Linked DNA regions of Homo sapiens. The protein of the gene in region 1 purifies or fractionates together with the protein of each later gene. This does not show direct contact. Each region holds a gene or a part of one and is shown in the gene's direction. Other genes may lie near its edges. The genes, in order: ANKRD10 and SETX.

What was found.
Region 2: the proteins of ANKRD10 (region 1) and SETX purify together in Homo sapiens (affinity purification with mass spectrometry; one large-scale study listed by BioGRID and IntAct). This does not show direct contact.

What each region holds. Positions count from the first base shown.
Region 1 is NC_000013.11:110,890,981-110,894,802, reverse strand, and holds part of ANKRD10 (ankyrin repeat domain-containing protein 10), read left to right. Parts: intron 1-409; coding exon of another isoform or gene 410-455; exon of another isoform or gene 456-600; coding exon of another isoform or gene 601-694; exon of another isoform or gene 695-1,539; coding exon 1,540-1,775; exon of another isoform or gene 1,776-2,111; intron 2,112-3,822.
Region 2 is NC_000009.12:132,295,666-132,299,487, reverse strand, and holds part of SETX (probable helicase senataxin), read left to right. Parts: intron 1-1,175; coding exon 1,176-1,408; intron 1,409-2,433; coding exon 2,434-2,601; intron 2,602-3,459; coding exon 3,460-3,616; intron 3,617-3,822. UniProt on the Homo sapiens protein: Probable RNA/DNA helicase involved in diverse aspects of RNA metabolism and genomic integrity.

The sequences.
Region 1 (3,822 bases):
GCAATACTAGAAAATACTCATGGCCATTCATAGCCATGCAGTCTTAATAAGGCTAATAAAAATAGTGACTTTAGTCTGTAATAGTCCTGCACATAGCCGCCTTATATTTTTAAGAATTTTGTTGGTTTCTGAGATTCTCAATTCTCTTTTATCTCTGATCAGATAGGATTTGGGTCTTTTTTCAAAAGGTGTAATGCATTTATCTTATGCTTTAAAAAGTAGAGACGCTTAGCTAGTGTCCATGCACACTTCTCATTTCCAAGGTCAGAGCTCTATGATGTCTGCAAATAACGAATACAAGGCTATTGTCAGTCCTTATAAATAAGAAAATATTATTTGTCCCTAATTCTGTAGTTTTCACTCTCAAATGCGGGGTTTTTTTTTTTTTTTTTTTTTTTTGCATTAACAGTAACCCCAAGAAAGGCATCAGGGTTCTGGAGTGGTTGTTTGAGTGACACAGCACAAGGCCTTGATTTCATCATGCTTTTGCTGTGGATGTAGTGTAGCTTGCTGAACAGGTATGGAAGCTGTCTTTGCTGTTAAGTACTTCTCCCGTTTGTTTATCAACCTGCAGCTAACAGGATGTCTGCTTTTTTACAGGTTTATTTCACAGAGCAGTGTACATTCTTGTCTTCCAGGGGAACTTCAACATGGAGTTACTTTTGATCCCTCAGTTTTAATTCAGTGTCTAAAGGTTTACAAGTTCAACTTACTCTATTTTATTCAGCTCTTTCACTTACTCTGCCATCACTTCCTACTTGAATCTGAGTTTTAGCTACTGTAGAGGTCTCAGACCTTTCCTTTTTAGTACTATTAGCCAGGTAAAACTTTGGTTCTTGTGAGTGGTAGGGATGAGTTTTTAGGACAGTATTCAAAGCCTTTTTAAAGGAACCAACTACTCAAATGCTCTACAATGCCAAAAATACAATACTCCTGCAGGTTTTCCCAAGCAAGGCCAAAACAATCAAAATCTGACAGAAAAACACAGCTGTTCAGCTCTGGAATCTGATGATAGGCTACTTTTTAATGTCAGGACATCCTTCTAAACTTCCACTTACAGTGTCACATGTAAGCATGAAGGCTGGCTCGTTGGTGAGCCATTGCTTTGTTTTTAGGAAGACAGTTATGAATGCCATGGACAATCTCAGTACATGTTGTTTGTTATGATTTTATTCACGCTAAAGGAATGGGTATTAAAATTAAGTGCATATAATATAGAATTCAGTTTCAAGTCTGAAGTTAGCGTAAATTTAGATTCTTCAGACTAACATAAAACATGATTTTGAGAAGTTAAATAGGAAGATGCCTTTTTTAGAAGTTTAGCATATTTAGTTTATCTCCCAAATCTTGCTTAGAAATCAAATGTATATAAGAGAAGTTAGTTACAGAGCTAGATTGATTAACTACTTCTTTAATGAAGATTTGCTATGAATTTGTTTACTCTTTCATACCACCTTCAGATAGCTAGTCAGTTCAGCAGGAGCAGAGACCAGGTTAGCACGCGGATGGGGTGTAATTCAGTGTTTTTGTGTTGTACAGCCTGAGAAATGCCAGTGGCCTGACAGCAGCAGACATTGCACAAACCCAGGGTTTCCAAGAGTGTGCCCAGTTTCTCTTGAACCTCCAGAATTGTCATCTGAACCATTTCTATAACAATGGCATCTTAAATGGGGGTCATCAGAATGTATTTCCTAATCATATTAGTGTGGGAACAAATCGAAAGAGATGCTTGGAAGACTCAGAAGACTTTGGAGTAAAGAAAGCTAGAACTGAAGGTGAGACCGCTTTGCGGGTGGGAAGAGCACACTTATTTTTCCTTTCTGTAATATGTTTTCTTTTTATGGCTGAGCGCACCTTCGAGATGAGACCTTCACTTCAGGTGGTAATGCGCCTGGTGGATTGTGCGGTGACGGTGGAGATTTCTCCTGTACTGCCACTGCGAAGATGGGACTTAACAAAAGGGAATGTGAGGGAAATACTGATGGCCCAAGTGTAAATGTCTATGTGGAACTTTTTGAGCACCCATGTTTACCTGCCATGAATTAGATTTTTTAATTTGTTGTATCTGTTTGAAATATATCTATTAAAGAAAATCTGCCACTGTGCCTGAATTTTTTTTTTTTTTTAATTTGCTTCTTGTAAATGTTCCTGGGCTTATAAAAATTGCTGATGGTCTGGCAGTAAAACATTTTCACATTCGGGAAGGTGAATGTTTTCTGTACTATTTCTGTACTATGATTTGACCTCAGTGGTCTCTGTACCTCACATGTGTGTTGACTTATCACAGCAAGATCTGGTGTATAATTTGATCTTGAGGATTTAAGTCCCTAAGGTAAGTTATTTTCGTTGTAAGTATTCTCCCACCATTTTTTTTTTTTTTTTTTTTGCTCTGTCACCCAGGCTGGAGTGCAATGCTGTGATCTCGGCTCACTGCAACCTCCGGCTCCCAAGTTAAAGCAATTCTCCTGTCTCAGCCTCCCAAGTAGCTGGGATTACAGGTGCATGCTATCACACTGGGCTAATTTGTATTTTTAGTAGAGAAGGGGCTTCACCATGTTGGCCAGGCTGGTCTTGAACTCCTGGCCTCCAGTAAGCCACCTGCCTCGGCCTCCCAAAGTGCTGGGATTACAGGCATGAGCCACTGTGCCTAGCCGTTTTTTGGGTTTTTTGTTTTTTGTTTTTAAGGTAGGTTTGAGTTTGCAAATAAGCAGTCAGCCAGTCACTCTTGAAGTTGAAAACATCTCCCTTTCCTATAGGAAAATCATCTATATCTATATATAAGATGTCTTAGGCCAGTTGTCATGGCTCATACCTGTAATCCCAGCACTTTGGGAGGCTGAGGCAGGAGGATTACTTGAGCTCAGGAGTTCGAGACCAGCCTGGGCAACATAGTGAGACCTTGTCTCTATTTAAAAAAAAAAAAAAAAAAAAGTCTTAATAAGAAGGTAAATGTGATAGCTTGGCAGGCATATTTAGTGAACTTAGGGGGAGAGGTGGGAGTGTGAAGTAATGAAGCAGATTATGAGCTCAGATTTGCTGAGTATAAGCACAAAGTTTTGCCCGTTGGTTTAAAAAAATCAACCGTGCAAGTTACAGCATAAGGAAAACTGAGTGACTATCAGTTAATCACTTAAAAATCTAGAGATTTTGGTTAAATTTCATGAACCAACATCATCTTTTCTACCTTATTTAATGAGTGTGTCCAAGTGAAACATTTTTTCCCTATAAAGTTGATAAAATGTCAGTATTATGTACTTCACAACTATATCTTGTCACCATAAAAATTCCTGTGATAAGACTTTTTATAGTAATGTATGAACTTAACAGTTTTATCAAATTCAAGATTTTTATGAGTTAAGCATTTCTGGAAAGATGCTAAAATCATAAGCATGACATGAAGATCTGCATAAAATTCAAAATGGTCTTTTTTAATGGTGATGTATTCAGCATTGTCATTTATTTGTACCATGTTTTAATATATTTTTTCTAATGTAGTTTCAACGCCTTTTTAAGAGCATCCACTTTTTAAAAAAATCCTTTGTCATTTCCTTTAATTAAAGCCTGGTTAGTATTGTAGAGTGGCCTCATGCCCTCATGCACGAATTGTACATGTCTGTCCCTGTATGTCACTGTATAGTCTAAATGTCCTTGAAAAATGATTTATGCTTCATTTTCTCTTATTGCTGATAAATCTTAAATTCTGTTTAGTATTTTTAAAAAGAGATCACTTAACATGCTAATTGGACTCAAAATGCACCTAGAAGAGTTCGTAAAACTAGTCTCAGAGTTTCTAAGGTCAGTTGAATTGGCCAATACCACATT
Region 2 (3,822 bases), on another chromosome or scaffold:
TAATTCTGTAGAATATAGGATACATTTAGAAGAGTTGCAGTGAGGATTGATGGCTTACTCTGTGCTTTTGGCTCTTGAAAATGATTACCTTTGCCAAATTTATAGTTCTAAGGCAGTCTCATTCCCTGAACTCCTCATAGATCAAAATCATGTCTTGGATACCTCCATTTGGAAATGTGTTAGACATTTCAAATCCACTAGTCCAAAAGTTAACACTTGATTTTCTGCCTGACATCTGCACTTCCTTCATTCTTTCCCATCTTGTTAATTGGGGCCTCACTTCTTTCAGTTACTCAGGCCAAAAACCTTGGAGTTATCCATGATCCTTACTTTCTCTCACACCTCACTTCTAATTTGTCAGCAGATATGATTGATTTTTCCTTTGCAATATATCCCAAATCCAGTTCCCACGTCTACTAGTGCCTCCTGGTCCAAGCTGTCATTAACTTTTACCTAAATTACTATGGTAACCTTGTAAGTGGTCTTTTTGTTTCTGTACTTTTCTCATTGTAGTTATTCTTTGTTCTGAGGTAAGAGTGGTTCTTTTAGTTTGTGAGATAGAGCATGTTATTTCCCTACACAGAGTGCCCAATGGTTTTCTACCCTGATCCTGAATAGCGTTCAGAGTCATTACTGTGATCTGCACAGCCCTATAAAATGTAGCCCCGTTTTACTCTGAGTCGCTAAGCGTTCTTCTCCCTATTTTTCCTTCTATCCATGTTAGCCTTCTCCCTATTTCTAAAATATTCCTGGCACATCTCTGTCTTACGATCTTTGCAGTTGCTTATTTTCTGCATGTAGTACTATTTACCCTCTGCTGAGTACTGTTTACTCCCTTACTTCAAGTCTCTGCTCAAATATTTCATCAGGAAGACCTTCTCGGACCAGCTTATCTGCCTCCATCCCCATCACTTCCTCCCTTTGTGTGCTTTCTTCAGAGCACTTACTACCACCTGACATATTTATTTGGTTATCTGCCTCCATCTTCTAGAAAATAAGCCTCCGGAGGACAGAACATTACTGGGTTCAGGAAGCAGTCCATAAATATTTACTGGGTAAATTATGTAAATAATATCCAAAAATATGTTAAAAATACCTAATTCTGCATGACCTTTACAACTAGGCAGCATTATTCAGTGATAACTGAAGTTGCTTTTTCTCTTTCTTGATGATAGTGCGTAATGGGAAAACTGAGTGTTACCTTTCCATCCAGACTCAAGAGAACTTTCCGGCCAATTTAAACGAACTTGTGAATTGTATTGTAATCAGTTCTCTGGTAACTACACAAAGGAAGTTGAAAGCCATGTCTCTGTTGGGTAGTCGGAACCAACTGGCTAGAGCTGTTCTGAATCCAAACCCTATGGACTTCTGTACAAAAGATTTACTGACTACAACATCTGAGAGAATTGTGAGTGATGATGTATGATACTAGATAATTTCATGTTAAGATGTTAAAGCATCATATTTTTTAGCTGCTATGTATTCCTATATGTTTACAACAAAAATGTGTTCACGGTGAACAGTTTAGTGTTAGTTTTCTTTAGTATTGCAAAGTATGTAATTTAGGTTAAGTCAGCTCACTTCAGGAAAAGGTACAGTACAATAAGCGTCGAAGGTTGCTGGAAGAGCAACATTAAAATGTTAGGTCAGCAGCCTACTTAATGTGCATTAGGTGAGAAGTCTCAGGTTTAGTGGTGTTAAATTTACATTTGAATGATTGATGGAGAATTGGCCGGTATTGTTGGAAATGCAAAGATGAAGTTGTCAACTGAACATGTGAAGCTGTGTATAAACTCTAGGAAGTTAACAGAGAAATGCAAAAGGAAACTAACTATTTAGAAACTCTAGAGCTGTATGCTATGGCTTTCATGTGCATTATCTCAGTCTGTTCTCACCTCTTAAGGAATCCTAGATTTAATGAGTAACAGAGGCCAAGGCTTGGGTTAGGAGCGTAGTGGCCTAGCTTGTAAGTGCAAGTGAAGCTTACACCCAGATCTTCCCCTGGCATACATGCTTTTTCCACTGTATCACATGTGCTAGGAAATAAATAGTCTTGGGATGTTTTCACTAAGGAGAAAATTGACTAAAGAAGGAAAAAAACAGAGTAGTAAATAGAAGAAAAGTTGTGGATTAGTAAATGCAATTTATTGTGATTATCTTTGTAAGAATAAAAAATAAAAGTACAGTTGTATTTGTAAGTACTTGAAGCGTTACAGACACTAATTAGTAATTAGTAAGTAATTAGCTTTCTTTCCAGTAGTGAACGTGCTTTTTAGATTAAAGGTCACTTTGGTGTCCTTGTCTTGTCTGACCATAACCAAAGCTTTTGTCTCATGCATTGAAAGAAATTTGGACAGGTCTTTTTCATGTTCTTCCTTTCAAATTCCACTACAGAAACAGCAACTCATTCTCAAAAATGTGTTTTTTATATAGATTGCGTACTTAAGAGATTTCAATGAAGATCAAAAGAAAGCAATAGAAACTGCATATGCTATGGTGAAACACTCACCATCAGTTGCCAAAATCTGCTTGATTCATGGACCACCTGGAACAGGAAAATCAAAAACTATTGTTGGCCTCCTCTATCGTCTACTGACAGAGGTAGGTATGGGTGAGGGCACTGATGCTGTTAACTAGCTGTATCATTTTACTTTACTTGAGTTAACTGACATGTAAATAAGTATTAACATGCCATTTCCTCTTTGATTTGTATATATTTTTTATATTGTGTGTAACTGTGTCAGAGAAAAGGGTGGCAGAGGGAGGGAAGGTTATGGGAAATAAAAAGAGGAAAAAACCACTATCTTATGTGAAACAAATCGTAAGGACTAGAATGATGGTCTTCAGGCTTCACGGTAGGTCACGTAGAATGCTGTGAATGCTGGGCTGCATTTTGGTTGGATTGTGGTTTTTTGTTTTTTTTTTTTGAGACAGTGTCTCGCTGTCATCCAGGTTAGGGTACAGTGGCACGATCTTGACTCACAGCAACCTCTGCCTCCCAGGTCAAGTGATTCTCCTGCCTCAGCCTCCCGAGTACCTCCCTAGTGGCTGGGATTACAGGCGTACACCACCACCCACAGCTAATTTTTGTATTTTTAGTAGAGATGGGGTTTCGCCATGTTGGCCAGGCTGGTCTCGAGCTCCTGACCTCAAGTGATCCGCCCGCCTCGGCCTCCCGAAGTGCTGGGATTACAGGCGTGAGCCACTGTGCCTGGCTTGGATTGAGTATTCATTAAAGTAAGTGGATGATAAAGTAAGGCTCAGAGCAGTTATGACAAATTTTTTTGCTGGAGTAATTTTAAATATCAGTGTTAGATGTAGATGCTTTTATTTATTTTTAACTTTATTACGAGAACTTTCAAAAATACATGGAAGTAAAGACAAACTTTAAAGCTATGTAATAGAGCTCACCCATATTTTTTGTGTGTTTGTTTGGTATGTATATGTGGCAAATTGTAGAACCAGAGGAAGGGGCATTCAGACGAAAACTCCAATGCCAAAATCAAACAAAACCGTGTCCTCGTGTGTGCACCTTCCAATGCAGCTGTTGATGAACTCATGAAAAAAATTATCCTTGAATTCAAAGAAAAATGTAAAGACAAGAAGAATCCTTTAGGTATGATACTTTTGTGGATTTTAAATTTGTTTTTGTTTTCAGTGTTAAGTGTAGGCAACTTTGAATGACAAAGGAAAGAGCAGGCCAGTCCTGGTAATAGCTTCTACTTGAATCTGTGGCTTGTGAGTTCATTTAGCAAGTATTTCATTGAACATTTACCCTGTGCCAGGGCCTGTGCCAGGTACTGAGGTTTCATCAGTGAAGTC